Regions from separate parts of the Homo sapiens genome. Here regions 2, 3, 4 and 5 are each reported to be linked to region 1. Evidence: microRNA targets listed by miRTarBase, many of them from high-throughput screens and not tested one by one. Region 1 holds a microRNA gene; each other region holds the end of a gene's coding sequence.
Evidence for each region. Region 1 holds the annotated microRNA hsa-miR-5588-3p (AAGUCCCACUAAUGCCAGC, at 1,527-1,545, shown strand). A microRNA usually pairs through its seed, bases 2 to 8, with sites in the 3' UTR of a target mRNA and lowers its output. Matches are read on the target gene's strand: a 7mer-m8 pairs with bases 2 to 8, a 7mer-A1 pairs with bases 2 to 7 and ends in A, and an 8mer does both.

Region 1 (4,149 bases):
TCACACTCCTCTGTCCTCCTAGCCTGGTGGTCTCTCGGTTAGCTTTACAAAGGCAGTTGAGTTTTGGGGAAGGGCTATTATCATTTAAACTATAAACCAAATGTCTCCCAAAGTTAACTTGGCCTAAGCTCAGGAATAATTAAGGGCAGCTAAAGGCAAGATGGGGTTGGTTAAATCAGATCTCTTTGACTGCCATAATTTTCTCACTGTTAGAATTTTTGCAAAGGCTGTTTCATTAGTACCCTACTCATTTAGGTGAAATGAACAATGTGTATTTTATGTGTTCCAGATGTGTATCAATATCACATAACTGTCAGGGAGGGCCCCAGGTATCTGTCCCTGTTCAGAAAGATCATGAAGATGAATACCGCGATGAGGACAGCTTGCCCGTCTCAGCGAACTCAGAACTTGTCCTCAGTAGCCAGCCCCTATGGGCCAAGGGGTTACAAACTTCGACTTGCCGGCAATTACAGCTGTTTTCCATCATTCTCCTTGCTGTACCTTCTGGTGGGAGCAGCATGGGAGTTAATAAAGGGAAAGCGACAAGCGTCTGTAGAGCGCCGGGTGGGGTCTCGGGAGAGGAGGGCTGGGTGGGAAGAGGCGCGGCGGGAGGCGGCGCCCCGGCTCGCATTGGCCCAGCCGGCGTCCCTCCTCTGGAGGAGGCCGGGCGCGCCCGGAAAAGTGGTTTGCCTGACGGCGAGAGGCAGAGGTGCCCTCGGTGATAGAGGAAACATGGCCGAGTATACGCGGCTGCACAACGCCTTGGCGCTAATCCGCCTCCGAAACCCGCCGGTCAACGCGATCAGGTAACGGGCTCGGTCGCCTCCAGCCCGGGGACCGTGCGGGCCTTAGCCGCCCTCTGGCTCCGGAGGCTTTGACTCTCCCCCGTCGGTTTAAACCGAGAAGGACACTCAAGAGTTGAGCAACTGGTACATGCCAGGAACTTTTTTTTTCTTTTCTTTCTTTCTTTTTCTTTTCTTTTTTTTTTTTTTTAACCTAGATTAGCTTGGTTAATCTTCGCAGGGAACTCTCGTCCCCGTTTTACTGATAAGGAAACTGAGGCTGAGGCTGAGACAGATCAACACTTAGGGAGTTGGCCTCGACCTGTCCTTCATGCGGAGCCCTCCTGCTTACTTGCAACTTTGGCTTTGCAGGCCGACTTTTTATTTTTCTTTTTTTTTTTTAATTATACTTTAAGTTTTAGGGTACATGTGCACAACGTGCAGGTTAGTTACATATGTATACATGTGCCATGTTGGTGTGCTGCACCCATTAACTCGTCATTTAATATTAGGTATATCTCCTAATGCTATCCCTCCCCCCTCCCCCCACCCCACAACAGGTCCCAGTGTGCAGGCCGACTTTCTAATCCAAAGGTCTTAACTTAGTTTGATGTTGGACTTTGATCCAGCCTCACTCCCCTTCTTTGAGTCCAGGCTGTCCTTACAATGTTTGGCTAAAGGCTTTAGGAATAGGGCAATCACTGGCATTAGTGGGACTTTTTTTTTTTTTTTTTTTAATGTTAAAAGTCCCACTAATGCCAGCTCAGTGATTAAAGCAGAATTTTGCCCTGGCCCGGAAACGCAAAATTATTTCTCCTGATTTGTTTAAACCTCAGGACTTTGGTGCTTCCAAGGAAGACTCACATCAGACTAAGCCTATGCAATAGCATTTTCTGAAAAATTGCACCTTATCTTCTTTTTCTCACTGGGGAGTATTTGCCTTGTGTGGTGCACTTTAAACATTAAAAAGTGAGATCAATGTTGCCTTTTTGAAAAGTAATGATTATTTGGTTTGGTCCTTCTACATCTCTTAAAAAAATAATTATATGTCAGCCTTGAAAAAGAATTACCTATCCACAGGGAATAAGATTAGTGGAAATTATAATTTATCAAGAATATATAAAGCATAGAGAGAAAGGTCTTTGGTCAAAATTCTTATAACATGCTGCTGAAGCAAAGAGACTGAAATGAGAAGACCTGCTAATTTTAATAGAATTTAAAAATCCTACTGTCATTGGATTTGATTTATCATTAGTATTAATATTAATTCATTATGAATTATTGCATTTAATAATGTCAAAAAATGCAGGACTAAAATCACATAAGGATGACATGTCTACTAACTTGCCATTCCCAGAATAAAAAGCAAAATATCTGTTATATTGGTTTTGACAAAGAAAAATGTAAGTAATATGATTACATGTCAATTTTGGACTGGTCTATATACTGATTAGAATTGCTAGATATTAGGACCTTAGGGGGAAAAGTTCCATACTCTAATACCCATGACTAGGAATATTTTCTGACAACTGTTTTTTTTTTTTCTTTTTTTTTTAAGCTCATTTGCTTGTTTTGAGACGGAGTCTTGCTCTGTCGCCAGGCTGGAGTGCAGTGGCGTGATCTCAGCTCACTGCAACCTCTGCCTCCCGGGTTCAAGTGATTCCCCTGCCTCAGCCTCCCGAGTAGCTGGGACTACAGGTGCGTGCCACCACGCCCAGCTAATTTTTTGTATTTTAGTAGAGACGGGGTTTCACCATGTTGGCCAGGATGGTCTCAATCTCCTGACCTCGTGATCCACCTGCCTCGGCCTCCCAAAGTGCTGGGATTACAGGCATGAGCCACGTGCCCAGCCTCTGACAATTGCTTTTAATATTTCTGGAATTTAACCTGCTCTCCTTGCCCACCCATGCAACCACCTGTGCCACCCCCATCCTCTTTGCAGGAGAAATGTTAGGGCCTACCTCATAAAGTTGTGAAGTTTAAATCAGCTGGAAATTATGAAGTGGCATTTAATAGATGTTAGTTATTCCTATTAGTCAGAAGACCTGTTCAAGCCCCAAAAACAGGCCCTGCTACTCAGGACCCACTTCAGTTTCATCAAGAAGATATTCTCCACTTGGGAATAAGTACTTCTCTGCCCTTTTTTGTCTGTCTTCTGAACTTTTTTAGGTAGAAATGGACATCCTAGGAGTTCCTCAAGTTTAACAGATTCCTCAATTTTTTTCTTACACTTTTTCTTTCCTCCCTTTCTTCCTTTTCCCCTTCCTATTTCTAATTTTATATGGGAAGTCGTCTCCTCCTAGCTGATTGAGAGATTCTTACTTGAGTGTAATACACACACACACACACACACACACACACACATATAAATTTTTTCCCCAAAACAAATAGTTTAAATCCTTCATTGCTAGTTTAGCCAGCCATGTTTGCTTCCATTCAGATAAACACCAGCCCTCTTTATAAGTATAGGACATGCCTGATTAATAGGCCTGTCTCCCAGAACAATGGCTTTCACACGATTGCTTTACTGTAATCCACAGAGTAAGAAAGCTCACGTTTTTACGTAGCAATTCAAGACACACTTACATACAAACACGTAACCGAAAGCAGTTTCCTAAAACAAAACCTATCCTTACTTGGTATATTGTTTGATATAGTCTATTTTCTCATCTCTTCTTTTTCTTTGAAAAAATCCTGGTCACAAGCCACAAACTTGATTTGATGACTTTTGGTTTAAAAAAAAAAACTGTCTAAAAAAAAAAGGAAAGACCTTCTATAGTCAAAGAAGCTGAAGAGTTTTGGTCAGTAGTCATGAAATGCTGTCTCTACTCCAGACTCTATTTCTTCATGCCTGACAGTATTAACAGGAGAAAATAATTTCATAACTTCTGCGGCCTTTACATTGCTATGACTCTCTCTGTCAGCTTGAATCTAGTAAAGTGCGTATCTGTTATAGCTATTTTCATTTTTTTCCTGTTTTTGATATTTGCAAAATTATGAACATAAAAAAGGAAGATAGGTTGAAATGGGAAAAGCTGGTTTCTTCTCCTCAGTGGCACTGATTGAGCTAATTTTGGCTAGTTTTGTAAGCATTGTTTATTCAGAAGGAAATGTGTGCCTTTTGGACTTTTTGATGTTATATAATGGTTCTGAATTTGCTTTTCATGGTCAGATTTGGCTTCTAATTAACCAGCTGAAGCCAAGAGGTTTTGTCTGATTTCATCTAGGTTAAGAGGTGAAAAGTAATTAGGTGTAAGGGAATCATTATAAATAAGGGCAAGTATCCTTTTTATTTCTTGGGGTTTTAACTAATAGTTGTTGGTCTTAACAATATGGCCTTTACAGAAGTTTGTTGTTGTTTGTTTTG
Region 2 (4,000 bases), not on the chromosome of region 1:
AACAAAACCACTCACTTAAAAGCTCTACAGGGTATAACAGCTAGATAAGACACATAGACCTAGATTTAATACTGCTTTAGAAAAACCAGTGGTAAAAAACGTTTTGAGGCCAAATTGGTAAATTTAGCTTTAGTATTAGAGATGAAAACACTGAAAGGGAAAGCTCAAGGTTGCTGTTTTTTTTTTTTTTTTTAAAGGTATGTTCTCACTCTGTCAACCAGACTGGAATGCAGTGGCATGTTCACAGTTCACTACGACCTTGACCCACTAGGCTCAAGTGATCTTTCCACCTCAGCCTCCCAAGTAGCTGGGACTACAGGCACATGCCACCACACCTGGCTAAATTTTTGGCAAAGATGGGGTCTATTGCCATTGCCCAGCCGAACTCCTGGCCTCAAGTGATCCTCCTGCCTCAGACTTCCAAAGTGTAAGGATTACAGGTATGAGTATGCCAGGCCAATTCTTGACTTTAAAAGCAGGATTCAGAATAGTGTAAATAAGGACCTCATTTTGATCAAAAATATATGTATGTATGACGCACACAGAATGATCAGAAAGGATATATAAGGTATTAGTGGTAAACTTTGGATGGGAATATGAAGTTCTAGTTTTTAATATTTTGCTTGCTATATTTTCAATTTTTAATATTTCACTTGCCCTTCCCTCCCCCTCTTCCTTCTTCCGTTCCTCTTTCCCCTCCCTCCCTCCCTCTCTCCTTCCTTTGAGACGGAGTCTCATTCTGTTGCCCAGGCTGGAGTGCAGTGGCACCATCTCCACTCACTGCAACCTCCACCTCCCGGGTTCAAGCAATTCTCCTGCCCCAGCATTCCCAGTAGCCGAGATTACAGGCATGCACAACCATGCCCAGCTAATTTTTCTACTTTTAGTAGAGACGGGGTTTCACCAGTGTTGGTCAGACTGGTCTCAAACTCCTTACCTCAGGTGATCTGCCCACCTCGGCTTCCCAAAGTGCTGGGATTACAGGTGTGAGCCACTGCGCCTGGCCTATATTTTCTACAATACATTTGCACTGTTTCTATGACAGAATGTTTCAACATTTTTCAAAGGAAGTGATGATTCATGAAATTACATTCTGCTGATAAATCAAGAAGACTGACAATTGACTACTGAATCTAGTAATATGGAAGTCACTGGTGACCTTGACAGTATGTTTATGTGGTGTGGGGAGAGCAAAACCTGACTGAAATAGTTTGGCAGTTCCTCAAAACATAGTTAAACACAGTTATTGTATGACCCAGCAATTACAGTCCTAGGTATATACCCAAGAGAACTGAAAATATATACCCATTAAAAAACCTTGTACACAAATATACACAGCAACATTACTTGTAGCTGCCAAAAGTGGAAACAATCCAAATATTCATAACGAATGGATAAAATGTGGTATATCCATGATGGAATATTATTCAGCAATAAATAATGAAGTGCTGATAAATGCTACAACATGGATAAACCTTGAAAACATTAGACTAAGTAAAAAAACACCAATCACAAAGAAAAACATATTGTATGATTCCATATATATGAAATGTTCACAACAGGCAATTCCATAAAGACAGAAAGCTTTTTAGTGCTTGCCTATGGCATAAGGAGAGGTGATGGGGAATGACTGCTAATGGGTATAAGGTTTGTTTGGGGGATGTTTTGAACATTTTGAAAATGTTCTAAAATTATAGTGTTGATGGTTGTACAACTCTGTAAACATATTAAAAACCAGAGAACTGTGTACTTTAAAAAGCTGGATTTTACAGTACATGAATTATATTGCAAAACAGCTGTTAATAGAAAGCAGCAAAATCTAGCTGATCTGTGTATTTCACTTCTTTACAGTATTTTCTGATTTACTCTTTTGTTGCCATTGCACAGATTTTTTTTTTCTTTAACCTCTCTTACTTCCAGAGATTTGATCCTTTTTTTTTTTTTTTTTTTTTTTGAGACGGAGTCTGGCTCTGTCGCCCAGGCTGTAGTGCAGTAGTGGCACAATCTTGGCTCACTGCAACTTCTGCCTCCCAGGTTCAAGCGATTCTCCTGCCTCAGCCTCCTTAGTTAGGATTACAGGTGCCCGCCACTGTGCCCGACTAATTTTTGTATTTTTAGTAGAGACAGGGTTTCGCCATGTTGGCCAGGCTTGTCTCAAACTCCTGACCTCAGGTGATCCGCCCGCCTCGGCCTCCCAAAGTGCTGGGATTACAGATGTGAGCCACTGCACCCGGCCTGATCATTTTTTAATAACATTGTTCTCCTCCTCCTCCTTTAAGAGACAGGGTCTCACTGTGCTGCCCAGGCTGGCCTCAAACTCCTGGGCTCAAGCAGTCCTCCCCACTCAGACTCCTGAGTAGCTGGGACTACAAACACACCACCACGCTCAGCTAACTCCCCATCTCTTAATCCCTATCCCTACACCATTCCCAAACTTTCCCAAATCAAAGATTAACCAGACAGAGAAAATACACTTTTACAGTTTAAGAAATATTAAATGTGATAACTGTTCAGGATCTACTTTTTACACAATCTCAGTAACGTATGTACATAGTCCCAAAAAAAAAAAAAGCAGCATTTGCCTGGGAACACATCACTATAAGCAAACAAAACATCAAATGGCCTGAATTCTAAAATACCTTTGGATTATATAAAATTACATTGTAAAGTTACAAATGTTGCTCATTCTTGAGAAATGTTTGAATGTTTAAATAATGTTGCCATAATACATATTATTTCACGACATTAAAAAAAACAATGGTGAATACAAGGTATCATCATTTTAAGGGTAAAGAGATAAAGCAAGTACATATACAAATCCACTGGAAAAGCTAAGTTTGGAGCTGATTTCCTCTCTTGAATTGTAAAATTTCAGTAATACACAGTCACTATCTACTGCTGGAATAATGCCTGAGCAATTTAGGTAAAGATACAAACAATAACAAAAACCCTGCCCAAATATTCAAACTTGGAGAATTCTAGTTAAAATAATAGAAAAATATAAAATTTATCCTTCCAAAAAAAGGTATCTAAGACAAAGGTATAGATACCCCATGTAAATTATTCACAAGTCATATGTGAATCAACCTTTTCTGTATTCCTTAAAGTTGTACAATCGACTGATGAAAAAACAAGCTTCATATTCAAAGACACTTTCAGAACACACCTACAATTAACTTATTAATGCTGAAGTATATTTTAAAAAACAGCTATTTCACTGAAGTCTTTACAGGAGATTTTATTTTTGGTGCATCTTCTTACGCATTTCTTCAAGAGCTGCTTCTTTCTCTCTCAGCACCTGCTTAAGTCTTCTTATTTTTTCATCTCGAATGGTTTCTTCTAACTCCGGTGGTGTCACTGGGAAAATATCTTCGGTATAATTTTTATTGAAGAAATGACTTTGTTCATAAGCTGCATTTGAATTCAAAGTGCCTTTCTCTTGCTTCTCATGGGTATAGTATTCCATCTCAGTTCTCTTTTCTTGTCTGGTTTTGCTGTGACTCGTGAGAATGTTATGTTGTGACACATCTGAAGTTGGTAAAATACTGCTTAGGAGTTGGGAACCGGTGACATTAGCTTCCCCATTTATGATTGCGTTATAAGCATTCTCTGTTTTTCTCTTCTTTATGTGATCCATCTTCTTATTAGTTTTTGCTTTTCTTTTCTTATCAAAATTCTGCTGCAATATTGAATAACATTCCAAAACAAAAACGAAATGTTACTGCTAAATGCACCGGGTACTACCAAACTTAACAACGTCTGCAGAAACAAATATCTAGCTATTACAATTAACAAAATTTATGGAAGACAACTACAGCAAGAGGGAAATATTTCCCACTGTATGGTACCAAAATGTCTTAATCATATTCAGTAAGAAGAAATTGCCTAATTCACATTTTCTTGCTCAAGTCAAGTATTAGAAGGCATACTGACTCACCACAGAAATATAATAGCACTTGTAAAGTGCCTGAGATATAAAATTGATTGTTTTTTTCTTTTC
Region 3 (4,149 bases), not on the chromosome of region 1:
CCTAGAATCAATTCTTTTAGAAGAAAAGCCATTCCAAACATCCTTGCCAATCAATAACTACCCGCTTGCTCACTATTCATTAATTCAACAAACGCTTCTCCATCACCTACTCCGTGTTGGGGACTGGGAGTGTGGATATGAGTAACACCTAGTTCCCAACCTCTAGACAGTCCGCTGGGGCTGGTCTTAGTTACGCCCCCAAGCTCTGCTCCCATGCCCTGCCCCTCAGGGCCCCCTCCTCAAAGAACTGAGAATAACGTTCCATTTCATTCCTGTCTCTGCAGGTGGGGCTGCTTCTCCAGGCTTGTCCCTTGGCCTCTGTAGTCCTGTAGAGCCAGTGGTGGTGGCCTCTGGTGGAACAGGCCCACTGAGCCAGAAAGCTGAGCAGGTGGCACCTGCTGCCCAGGCCTGGGGCCCAGCCCTGGCAATGCCACAAGCCAGGGGCTGCCCTGGGGGGACTAGCTGGGAGACACTACGGAAGGAATACAGCCGAAACTGCCACAAATTCCCGCATGTGAGGCAGCTGGAGAGCTTGGGCTGGGACAATGGCTACTCCAGAAGCAGAGCCCCTGACCTGGGTGGCCCCAGCAGGCCTAGGCCCCTGATGCTGTGTGGGCTGTCACCACGGGTTCTACCGGTACCCTCTGAGGCAGTGGGGAAGGAGGCCAGCTCCCAGCCTGATATCTGCATCCTCACCCTCGCCATGATGATCGCTGGCATCCCCACCGTGCCCGTCCCAGGAGTTCGGGAAGAGGACCTGATCTGGGCCGCTCAAGCTTTCATGATGGCCCATCCGGAGCCAGAGGGTGCTGTGGAGGGGGCGCGGTGGGAGCAGGCACATGCCCACACAGCCTCTGGGAAGATGCCCCTAGTGAGATCTAAAAGGGGCCAGCCTCCTGGCTCCTGCTTGTAGATGGATGAAATAGCACCAGATATGTAGGGTGGTTTCTCCGTATGGTTCTTGGGCAGACAGGGTTGGGAGGAGGGCCTATGGCAGGGATGGGGATAGAGCTGGTGGTTGAGCCATTCTGACAAATTCCAGTCCTTCATCAGGGACTTCCAGACCCTAAAGTTTCTCCAGATACCACTAAGACAGGAGATAGGTTTTGTCAGGTAGATACAATGGAAATTATCTGAGGTAGGGGCCCCTGCTTGGAGAGTTAAGGCTGCTTTTATGTTGTTTTGAAGACTTGATCAGAATTTTTTTTTTTTTTGAGATAGGGTCTCACTGTGTCACCAATGCTGGAGTGCAGTGGCACAATCACAGCTCACTGCAGCCTCAACCTCCTGGGCTCAAGTGATCTTCCTACCTCAGCCTTCCTGAGTAGCTGGGACTACAGGCACGTGCTACATCCAGCTAATTTTTGTATTTTTTGTACAGAAGGGGTTTTGCCATGTTGCCCAGGCTGCTCCAATCTGCCTGTTTTGGCCTCCCAAGGTGTTGGGATTAGAGGCGTGAGACGCCGTACCTGGCCTACCCAGAATTTTTTTTTTTTAATTTTTATCTTTTAGACAGAGTCTTGCTCTGTCACCTAGGCTGGAGTGCAATGGCATGATCTTGGCTCACTGCAACCTCCGTCTCCCAGGTTCAAGTGATTCTCCTGCCTCAGCTTCCCGAATAGCTGGGATTACAGGTGCCTGCCACTACGCCCGGCTAATTTTTGTATTTTTAGTAGAGACACGGTTTCACCATGTTGGTCAGGCTGGTCTCAAACTCCCGACCTCAGGTGATCCGCCTGCCTCGGCCTCCCAAAGTGCTGGGATTACAGGTGTGAGCCACCATGCCTGGCCAGAATTTCTTATATTAAGTCCTAGGTATTTGAATTCTCCTCTTGCCTTAAATTTCCCAGCATGTTGAAGGCAGGTCATAGGACCATAGGCAAGGAAGGAAAATTAATACTTAATTGAGCACCCACTAGGTATGCCTGCTCTGTGAACATACCCTGTGGAGATCCCCATTTTTACAGATAATCAGGTTGAGGTTTAGAGGGGTAACTTATCCTAATAAGTCTCATAGCTAGTAAAAGGCAGAACCAGGCACAAAAATCAAGCAGGGAAGGAACCAACCAGGATTCACATGTTGTATAACACTCTAAAGTCTATTCTCTCCATGATATACCCTAAACTGCCTTCTATGGAACAAAAAAAAAACTAGACAAGTGCTAGAATATGCAACATTCAGTTTTATTGACCCCAGGATGGGACAAGGAAAAAAGTTCAGGGAGCCTGGCTGAGTCAGCTCCCCAGAGGGGCCTCTTCCCCTGTAGGAAGCCTCCCAGCCCAGCTCACTTAAAGGAGACGGGTTAAGTGAGTCATCTCATGACTGGGGCAACTGCTACCAAGCCCCAAACCTCAACCTCACCACCTGATGTTTTATCTCTTATCTTAGACCAGGGGTTGCCATTTATTTTATTTTTTTTAGATGGAGTCTCACCCTCCCAGGCTGGAGTGCAGTGGCAGCAGGATCTTGGCCTACTGCAACCTCTGCCTCCCAGGTTCAAGCGATTCTCCTGCCTCAGCCTCCCGAGTAGCTGGGATTACAGGGCCCCCGCCACCACACCTGGCTAATTTGTGTATTTTTAGTAGAGACAGGGTTTCACTATGTTGGCCAGGCTGGTCTTGAACTCCTGACCTCAAGTCATCTGTCCACCTCAGCCTCCCAAAATGCTGGGATTACAGGCGTGAGCCACCATGCCCAGCTGGATTGCCTGCTTTTTTAAAGACCTTTGAGCTAAGAAAGGTTTTTACCTTATGAAAATGTTAAAACAGGCCGGGTGCGATGGCTCACGCCTGTAATCCCAGCACTTTGGGAGGCCGAGGCGGGCAGATCACGAAGTCAGGAGATCGAGACCATCCTGGCTAACACGGTGAAACCCCGTCTCTACTAAAAATACAAAAAATTAGCCCGGCATTGTGGCGGGCGCCTGTAGTCCCAGATACTCGGGAGGCTGAGGCAGGAGAATGGTGTGAACCCAGGAGGTGGAGCTTGCAGTGAGCAGAGATTGCGCCACTGCACTCCAGCCTGGGTGACGGAGACAGACTCCTTCTCAAAAAAAAAAAAAAAAAAAAAAAGAAAAAAAATATTAAAACAAAACCAAGAATATACAACAGAGACTGTATGTGGCCACCTGAGTAAACTAAACAGATTAAGATTTGCTGACTCCTGTCTCATTGAGCTAGACACATGCTAGGTAGCAGGCCATGGTAGATGAGAAGACCCTTCAACCTTGTCCTTGTTGTCCTTGTTCTGGAAGGAGGGCCCACGGAAGTACAACAGTGTAAGGGAGTGTGTGTGTGTGTGTGTGTGTGTGTGTGTGTGTGTGTATGGGTGGATGTGAGTGTGCACAGGTGCATGAGCATCTCTGGGCATCGAGAATAATCAGAGTTGGACCTGCTCATAAGGCCCAATCCAGCTGTCGGCCAGTTCCCGCAGGGTGCTATACCTCCGCTCAAACTCCTCCTTGGTGCAGTGCTGCAACAGCTGACCCACCTCCTCGGTGAGGTGAGTCACTGCCAGGTGCTTATCCAGGGTCTCACTCCACTTGCTGCCCAGGATGCTGTCTAGACTGGTAGCACAGCCTGCCGTCCACTGAGCCGGCAGCATGTCGGGCTGGAGCACCTGGCGGCGGGCACTGAGCATGGCTAGGATGTGGCGGCAGGGCAGGTGGAAGGCCTGGTTAAAGTAGCAGCTGCAGCTGGCAGGGGGCTGGGGCTGCACCTTATGGGTATCTTCCAGGATCTGTATGTTCATCTTTTCTGAGCCAGAGCCAATGAGGTGTGTGGATTTCTGGACCACAGCAAGCTCGCCCAGGCACAGTTGGGCTGCTGGCCCTGTGCAGATGGCATTGAGGGAGTGCTGGATGTGGGATTCTACCAGCTGCTCCAGTTTGGGGCTTTCGGGGATGGTGTCTGAGGGAGCATGATTGTTCTGGGCACACAGGCCCTGGTTGAAGTTTGCCTTGTCTGCAGAGTTCTGCTGCATGTAACGGAACAGAGAAGCCATACCTTGTTTCTCAGATGGGGTGGTACCAAAGAACTGGCTGAGGATGTGGGTGGTGACCTCGAGGCTCTGGAAGTAGTGGCTGCTCTCAGCTCGGCTTCTCCAGCGGTGAGCCAGCCAGATGCGGTCGTTGAGCAGCCAGTGTGAGT
Region 4 (4,149 bases), not on the chromosome of region 1:
CCAAGATTGCGCCATTGCACTCCAGCCCGGGCGACAGTGTGAGACTCCATCTCAAAAAAAGAAAAAAAAAAAAAAAAGAAAGAAAAAAGTTGTCAGATTAGGACAGGCACAGTGGCTCATACCTGTAATTTCAGCACTTTGGGAGGCCGAGGTGGGTGGATCACTTGAGGTCAGGAGTTTGAGACCAGCCTGGACAACATGGTGAAGCCCTCTCTCTACTAAAAATACAAAAATTAGCTAAACACAGTGGCACGTGCCTGTAATCCCAGCTGCTTGGGAGACTGAGGCAGGAGAATCACTTAAACCCGGGAAGCGGAGGTTGAAGTGAGCCAAGATCGCACCACTGCACTCCAGCTGTGTGACAGAGCAAGACTCCATCTCAAAAAAAAAAAAGAAGAAGAAGAAGTGGTCAGATTCAGGACGTGTTTTGAGGATAAGTGGTGGATTTAATGTAGGGCTTGAGAAAATGCCATTGTGTATGACTGACTGGTGTTTGAATCCTTTATCATATCCCAGGGCCGGTCTAGGACACATAATTGTGTGTGCCTAGGCATTCTTCCCAGTTTGTTGTGGCTGCCCTGCCCAAGCCCACATCACCTATTAGCTTCACGTCCTTCTCTCCGCAGCCACCAAAACCCTCAACAGGGGCATCTCTGAGTTCATCGTGATGGCTGCAGACGCCGAGCCACTGGAGATCATTCTGCACCTGCCGCTGCTGTGTGAAGACAAGAATGTGCCCTACGTGTTTGTGCGCTCCAAGCAGGCCCTGGGGAGAGCCTGTGGGGTCTCCAGGCCTGTCATCGCCTGTTCTGTCACCATCAAAGAAGGCTCGCAGCTGAAACAGCAGATCCAATCCATTCAGCAGTCCATTGAAAGGCTCTTAGTCTAAACCTGTGGCCTCTGCCACGTGCTCCCTGCCAGCTTCCCCCCTGAGGTTGTGTATCATATTATCTGTGTTAGCATGTAGTATTTTCAGCTACTCTCTATTGTTATAAAATGTAGTACTAAATCTGGTTTCTGGATTTTTGTGTTGTTTTTGTTCTGTTTTACAGGGTTGCTATCCCCCTTCCTTTCCTCCCTCCCTCTGCCATCCTTCATCCTTTTATCCTCCCTTTTTGGAACAAGTGTTCAGAGCAGACAGAAGCAGGGTGGTGGCACCGTTGAAAGGCAGAAAGAGCCAGGAGAAAGCTGATGGAGCCAGGACAGAGATCTGGTTCCAGCTTTCAGCCACTAGCTTCCTGTTGTGTGCGGGGTGTGGTGGAATTAAACAGCATTCATTGTGTGTCCCTGTGCCTGGCACACAGAATCATTCATACGTGTTCAAGTGATCAAGGGGTTTCATTTGCTCTTGGGGGATTAGGTATCATTTGGGGAGGAAGCATGTGTTCTGTGAGGTTGTTCGGCTATGTCCAAGTGTCGTTTACTAATGTACCCCTGCTGTTTGCTTTTGGTAATGTGATGTTGATGTTCTCCCCCTACCCACAACCATGCCCTTGAGGGTAGCAGGGCAGCAGCATACCAAAGAGATGTGCTGCAGGACTCCGGAGGCAGCCTGGGTGGGTGAGCCATGGGGCAGTTGACCTGGGTCTTGAAAGAGTCGGGAGTGACAAGCTCAGAGAGCATGAACTGATGCTGGCATGAAGGATTCCAGGAAGATCATGGAGACCTGGCTGGTAGCTGTAACAGAGATGGTGGAGTCCAAGGAAACAGCCTGTCTCTGGTGAATGGGACTTTCTTTGGTGGACACTTGGCACCAGCTCTGAGAGCCCTTCCCCTGTGTCCTGCCACCATGTGGGTCAGATGTACTCTCTGTCACATGAGGAGAGTGCTAGTTCATGTGTTCTCCATTCTTGTGAGCATCCTAATAAATCTGTTCCATTTTGATGACAGAATGGCAGTGCCTGATTCTTAGTAAGTATCCGGCTAAAATTGGAATGAAGACATACTTAGCTTTACTAGAGTGGTGATAGCTGCTTAAGACTTTTTTTTTCTTCTTTGTGAAAGAGTTTCACTCTTGTTGCCTAGGCTGGAGTGCAATGGCACGATCTCGGCTCACTGCAGCCTCTGCCTCCTGGGTTCAAGTGATGCTCCTGCCTCAGCCCCCAAAGTAGCTGGGATTACAGGCGTGCGTCACCACGCCCAGCTAATTTTGTATTTTTAGTAGAGACAGGGTTTCACCATGTTGGCCAGGCTGGTCTTGAACTCCTGACCTCAGGTAATCTGCCTGTCTCAGCCTCGCAAAGCGCTGGGATTACAGGTGTGAGCCACCACGCCTGGCCACTTGCTTAGACTTTTTTTTACCAGAAGGCTATGGAAGAGCTGTCTCCTCCTACCAGGTAGTTTCTACCTTGGCAGTTCAAAATGTCGTCTTATACACACTCAACTGGAGCATTGCTATCACTGGAACTGGCTTTCTCAACCTCCGTGCTGTTGACATTTGGGGCTGGTTAATTTGTTGTGAGGACTGCCCTGTGTGTTGTATGTTTAGTAGCATCACTGGCTTCTACCCGCTAGGTGGCAATAGCAGCACCCCCCCACAACCAAAAAATGTTTCCGGACATTGTTAAATGCCCCCGGCAGTAAAATCACCCCCAATTGAGAATCACTGTTGGAGAATCAGGGTTTCTAGTAACCCTTGGCACATGCAGGATTGGTATTGGTGACTAAAGCCACTGCCCCCTCACTTGCCTCTTCTACTTATTATCTTAAGGATAAGTTCCTTGAGAGCCTAATAACTCAGCTTGAGAAATCTTCCAAGGTGCAAGTAACTGGGTACCATAGTGATCCCCTCTTTGCCAGCTTGGGCCAATATACCCCTGCTCTAGCAAGAAGCACACCTGGGGGAACCTGGCAGCCACCTTAGCCAGTCGGACCTGTTCTGTGCATCCTGGGCTGGTCATTTCTCCCAGCTTACTCCAGTGTTCTCATCACCACCCCTGAAGCAGTTTTATATTTTTGGATGGTGGAATTTTACACAGTGCTTACTTTTTCACAGTCATGCATTCAGTGTTTTTGGTCAATGACAGACCACATATATGACAGTGGTCCCCTAAGATTGTAATACTGTGTTTTTACTGTACCTTTCCTACGTTAAGATGCACAAATGCCATTGTGTTACAATTGCCTACGGTATTCAGTAACATGCAGTACAGGTTTGTAGCCTAGGTGTATGTATAGTAGGCTGTTCCATCTAGGGTTTTGTTTGTTTGTTTGAGACAGTCTCACTCTGTCGCCCAGGCTGGAGTGCAGTGGTATAATCTCAGCTCACTGCAACCTCCGCCTCCTGGGTTCAAGCGATTCTTTTGCCTCAGCCTCCTGAGTAGCTGGGATTACAGGAGCACGCCACCACACCCGGCTAATTTTTGTATTTTTAGTAGAGACAGGGTTTCCCCATGTTGGTCAGGCTGGTCTTGAACTCCTGATCTCTTGATCTGCCCACCTCGGCCTCCCAAAGTGCTGGGATTACAAGCGTGAGCCACCGCACCCAGCCGGTTTTTGTAAGTATACTCTATGGTGTTTACACAGTGACGAAATTGCCTAACAATGCATTTTTCAGAACTTACCTCTGTCATTAAATGACACATTACTTTTTTTTTTTTTTGAGACAGTCTCGCTCTGTCACCAAGGTTGGAGTGCAGTGGAGCAATCTCAGCTCACTGCAACCTCCGCCTCCTGGGTTTAAGCGATGCTCCTTCCTCAGCCTCCTGAATAGCTGGGATTACAGACACACGCCACCACGCCCAGCTAACTTTTGTGTTTTTAGTAGAGACGGGGTTTTACCATGTTGGCCAGGCTGGTCGGGAACTCCTAACCTCAAGTGATCCAACCTGCCTCAGCCTCCCAAAGTGCTGGGATTACAGGCGTGAGCCATCCCGCCCAGCCAACGTAATGACTTTTTTCTTTCTTTTTTTTTTTTCTGAGACAGAGTCTGGCTCTTGTAGCCCAGGCTGGAGTGCAATAGCGCGATCTCAGCTCACTGCAACCTCCGCTTTCCAGGTTCAAGTGATTGTCCTGCCTCAGCCTTCCAAGTAGCTGGGATGACAGGTGCCCACCACCATGCCTGGCTAATTTTTTGTATTTTAGTAGAGACGGGGTTTCACCACGTTGGCCAGGCTAGTCTCAAACTCCTGACCTCATGGCCCACACCCC
Region 5 (4,149 bases), not on the chromosome of region 1:
GGCAATTCCAAAAAAATGTGCTGAGTCATGAATCCCTAGGGAAAGAAGATTTTGACAAGAACAGGCAAAAGCTGCGACAATTATGTGATTAGGAATAACAGAGGCTCATTATTCTTCCAAATGAAGCCCTTTAATGCAAACATTAACCCTACACCTGTTCCCGGAACACTTGATGCCTCCCTCAGGTACAGAGAAGCAATACATTTAAGAATGACAACGACAAAAATAATAGCTAATATTTTATTGGACATCTACTACATATCAGGTATATATATTGGGAATCTTATTTAATTCCCACAATAGCCCTATGATGTGTTTTATAAATGAGGAAACTGAGGCTCTGAGAGGCTAAATAATTCGCTCACAGTCACCTGGCCACAGGGACTGAGATAGGCAATCTGGTTGTGGAATCACAACCTTAACAAGTATGTACACTGCAGTCCCAAGTATTATCCATGTATTCATAGAGCTCTGATCATTTTAACTGAGTGCGATTAAACTCCTTCCTCAAAGAGGGATTTTACTGACATCCTTCATATACAATTGACTATATAGCAGACGGTCCCAAGATATTTTTTTCTTTTTGAGATGGGGTCTCATTCTGTCACCAAGACTGAAGTGTAGTGGTGCAATCTTGGCTCACTGCAGCCTCCAACTCCTGGGTTCAAGTGACTCTCCTGCCTCAGTCACCTGAGTAGCCGGGATTACAGGCATGTGCTACCACACCTGGCTAATTTTTGTATTTTTAGTTGAGATGGGGTTTCACCATGTTGACCGGGCTGGTCTCCAAATTCTGGCCTCGAGTGATCCACCCACTCAGTCTCTCAAATTGCTGGAATTACAGATATAAGCCACTGTACCCCGCCCAAGATTGTTACTAATGAAGGAGAAAGTGCATGGCACTGCTAATGTAAATCATGTATTTTATGTGTTCAATATAATATTCCTTCTAAGTAAAAGAGAAAATGAGATGTCCTTTGTTTCAAAATGGAGCTCCCCTTTATGTCCTGGAACATCCTGAGTTAGGATAATTCTATACCAACTGCTAAGCACCGAGGCTACCTAAGGTCACTGGACTGGTTGGCTGGCGTAAATGTTTGGTCATGACCTCCCAGTACTGGAACTCCTGGTTCTTGGGAACTGTTCCTCATGAGCCCTTTAAAGGTCGGTGGCTGAACCTTCTTCCCTGCTGACATGATTACCCTACAGAAAATTTTCTCTGTTCACTAAAGGATTGGCTTTAGAGCAACCCTCCTGGCCAGGGCTAATTTCTGAACCATGTTAGAAATTAAAGGGTTTACTTTAATTTCTACAAAGAGAAAAATTTTGCATTTTGATTTTGGAAATTACTTATGCTTTTATAATATGTTGTCCATAGTATTATGACAATTATGTTTTAGATCATAAAATGAGGGTCATAATCTCCATCTCACAAGGTTATTATGAGGGTTAAACAACATAAGCTTGAAACATATTAAGAATTCTATAAATTATTATTAAGAACTAAGACCTGCAGAGTACTCTTTACCACAAGAGGTAAAGCTGATAAACTAGCTTTTTGGAAGGCAATGGTAAAAGTAGCTAAGCATTTTGAATATGCTTTTGTCCAATAACCATGTTCCAGAGTCTGAATTATGCCAGGTAATTTATAGTTTTACATTCAAGTGACATGTCACTATAATTGGGTGGAGAACTAAGAGGAGAAAAAGCAACCAAACTGATGCAAAACAAAGAAAAATATTTTATTGTAACTTAAAATTCATCCCCTAGACAACAGATAACGCCCACATTGGATGTTATTTAGCAGACATAGTGAAGATGCCTTTGGACAATTATCAGCATTGATGAATATGAAGATGTCACATCAAAGTCAAACTTTTTCAGGTTATTGGGTTTCCTGAACATAACTGGCAAAAAGGAACTTTCAACACAACAAGTAGTTTAGTTTTTTTTTTTTTTATGTCACTTATTTTATTTACTAACCTTGACAGGGACTAAAGAATGAGGTACAGAAAACTTTCCAGAAGTCTGAGTGTGGTGTAGAAGTCCAAGACAACTTGGAGCTCCATTATTGCATTATTAAGTAGAATGAACTGTTATGAAATTCTCCATATTCCAGGTTTACTACATAGAAAAGTACTATTTACCTACCTCACAGAGGTATTGTGAGGATTTGTGTTTATAAAGTGCTTCAGGCGCCTTCGAAGAAAGGCAACATACAAGTATAAAATAATCATACAAATTTCAAAATAAATGAAAAGATGATTTTGGCACAATGGGAAGGGTGCCTCCTATTTAAAGAACACTTGGCTATTGGTTTATAAAATCCCCTGACCTCTTGGGTTTTAAAAAAATTATTATTTAAAAGAATAAATGTTTTTCCATTGCCAATCTTATAAAAATTCTCAATCCAGGCTGTGTTATCAGAATCACTTGAAGAGCTCAGTAAAATTATAGATGTTTGGGCAACAGCCTACACCAGCAGAATTAAAAGTTCTATGTGTGATACCCAGGTACCTATATTTTCAAAAAGATCTATAGGGAATTCTGATGCATACCAAAGTTTAAAACCCATTTCTTTAGAAAAAAAATCAATGTATTAAACATTGGAGTTTATCCCAAGGACATTTTTCTTAAGGTTAAATGCAACTGCATAAGGGTATTAATTTCTTATTGCCCTTTTCCATTCCCATATCCCATGCAGACTTAGAGCATGCATAGCACACACACACACACACACACACACTCACGTTTAATTCTGCCCTTGAATTATATTTGATAGTGGTAAAATCTGATAGTAGCAAATAAATGCTTCACTGGGAGGATATGCAAGAACTTGCAGCCCATCCCCACTGTGCCCAAAGCAAATGGATGTTTCCCATTTGCCAGAACGGAATGATTGAGAAATGTGTTTCCAATTTGGAAACAGGTAAAATTAGCACTTCCCAGGAAACATCAGCTGAGTGGATGGCCAAGAAGCAAAAGTGAGCAAGGTTGGAGTGGTCAACCATGAAGAAAGTCTACAGTGACTACTTCTCCATTTGGAGTTCACCCACATCTCAGCAAATACCTTAGGAACTGAAACAGTTGCTCAGTGGGTACCAAACAACATGCGAGTACTTCAGTGAGGTAAATAGAATAATGAAAACTGGTGACTGTAGGTTAAAATATATTTTTTTAAAAAATGACCAATTTGCTCCACTGCAATTCTTAAGGCTGTTTTAGTCGCCACTTTAATTTCCTGGCTGGCTTGAAGTCTTCTGTTTACTAGCAAGTCAAACATAGAGAAGAGAATGATTTATTTCCTAGTGGGCTTCACACATATCTTATCATGATGCTTGCATCACTTTTAAAATAGGAGCAGTCTCTCTAGGTGCCTTGCAGTGGATTAAATGGAGTCGGCAGAGAAATTATACTTCTTTACACAGAGAAAGCCTTCTGAGGCTGGTCAAACTTTTTACAATGTTAAGAACTAGTGAATAACAGCAAAACAGAATAGTCCCATTGATGGTGTGGGGAGGAGAAATAGAAAAAAATACGAGATAGAGGCTACGCATACACTACATAAAAAATAGGATATATAAAAAAAAATAATTCATTCAGAGTCAGTCATTGTGAAATTTTGCTATGAGAAAATAGTCTTGACTCTAGAAAATTTGCTTGAGAATCTGTTAAAATATCGTTGCTATATGGTATAAAATAGCAAAAATAGTGTCTTCCAATATTCTTCTAAACATTAGAGGCAACTTTGTACAAGAAAGTTGTTGGAGCTGGCTTGGGGAGTTGCTTGTTGCATGTATCCCAAGAGGGCAAGGCTGCCAGCAGCAGAATAAAACCTCCCAGCAGGACGCAGAAGCCACTAAAATAAAATGCAATATCATAGGTCTGGGTCCAGTCATAAAACCAACCTGAAAAGGCAGTAAGAAAAAAAGTAAGTTTCATGGAAATAGTATGAACATCCATCCCATACCCTAATTATATCAGTTTTATATATAGTTATAATTAGTATATATATTACTCCACTACTTCCAGCGTGGTTTACTGGGAGTTAGAAGAAGAGAATCTCTCAAATATTTGGATAAGAATAAGCAGGCAGGCTGGGTGCGGTGGCTCACGCCTGTAAACCCAGCACTTTGGGAGGCCGAGGCG

Region 2: the mRNA of LRIF1 is a reported target of hsa-miR-5588-3p. Seed matches in the 3' UTR shown: 8mer at 2,552-2,559.
Region 3: the mRNA of ZSWIM1 is a reported target of hsa-miR-5588-3p. Seed matches in the 3' UTR shown: 8mer at 2,928-2,935.
Region 4: miRTarBase lists SNU13 as a target of hsa-miR-5588-3p. Seed matches in the 3' UTR shown: 7mer-m8 at 1,726-1,732.
Region 5: miRTarBase lists SLC16A9 as a target of hsa-miR-5588-3p. Seed matches in the 3' UTR shown: 8mer at 3,497-3,504.

What each region holds. Positions count from the first base shown.
Region 1 is chr3:185,250,606-185,254,754 of GRCh38, reverse strand. MIR5588 (microRNA 5588) reads left to right here and starts at 1,483; the gene lies at 1,483-1,545. EHHADH (enoyl-CoA hydratase and 3-hydroxyacyl CoA dehydrogenase) reads left to right here and starts at 706. Exons shown (of 7, transcript NM_001966.4): 1 at 706-806. The coding sequence starts at 733.
Region 2 is chr1:110,944,721-110,948,720 of GRCh38, forward strand. LRIF1 (ligand dependent nuclear receptor interacting factor 1) reads right to left here. Exons shown (of 4, transcript NM_018372.4): 4 at 2,470-3,679. The coding sequence ends at 3,239. Among named protein-coding and RNA genes, the nearest start is that of LRIF1, 17 kb to the right of the region's middle.
Region 3 is chr20:45,883,281-45,887,429 of GRCh38, reverse strand. It overlaps ZSWIM1 (zinc finger SWIM-type containing 1), which reads right to left. Exons shown (of 2, transcript NM_080603.5): 2 at 2,164-4,149. The coding sequence ends at 3,380. It overlaps SPATA25 (spermatogenesis associated 25), which reads left to right. Exons shown (of 2, transcript NM_080608.4): 2 at 285-939. The coding sequence ends at 913. Among named protein-coding and RNA genes, the nearest start is that of SPATA25, 2.3 kb to the left of the region's middle. RefSeq lists enhancers at 96-596, 597-1,097.
Region 4 is chr22:41,671,673-41,675,821 of GRCh38, reverse strand. It overlaps SNU13 (small nuclear ribonucleoprotein 13), which reads left to right. Exons shown (of 3, transcript NM_001003796.2): 3 at 627-1,889. The coding sequence ends at 889. LOC107985567 (protein LLP homolog) reads left to right here. Exons shown (of 1, transcript XM_047441692.1): 1 at 1-620. Among named protein-coding and RNA genes, the nearest start is that of SNU13, 15 kb to the left of the region's middle.
Region 5 is chr10:59,649,043-59,653,191 of GRCh38, forward strand. SLC16A9 (solute carrier family 16 member 9) reads right to left here. Exons shown (of 6, transcript NM_194298.3): 6 at 1,722-3,908. The coding sequence ends at 3,730. Among named protein-coding and RNA genes, the nearest start is that of SLC16A9, 59 kb to the right of the region's middle.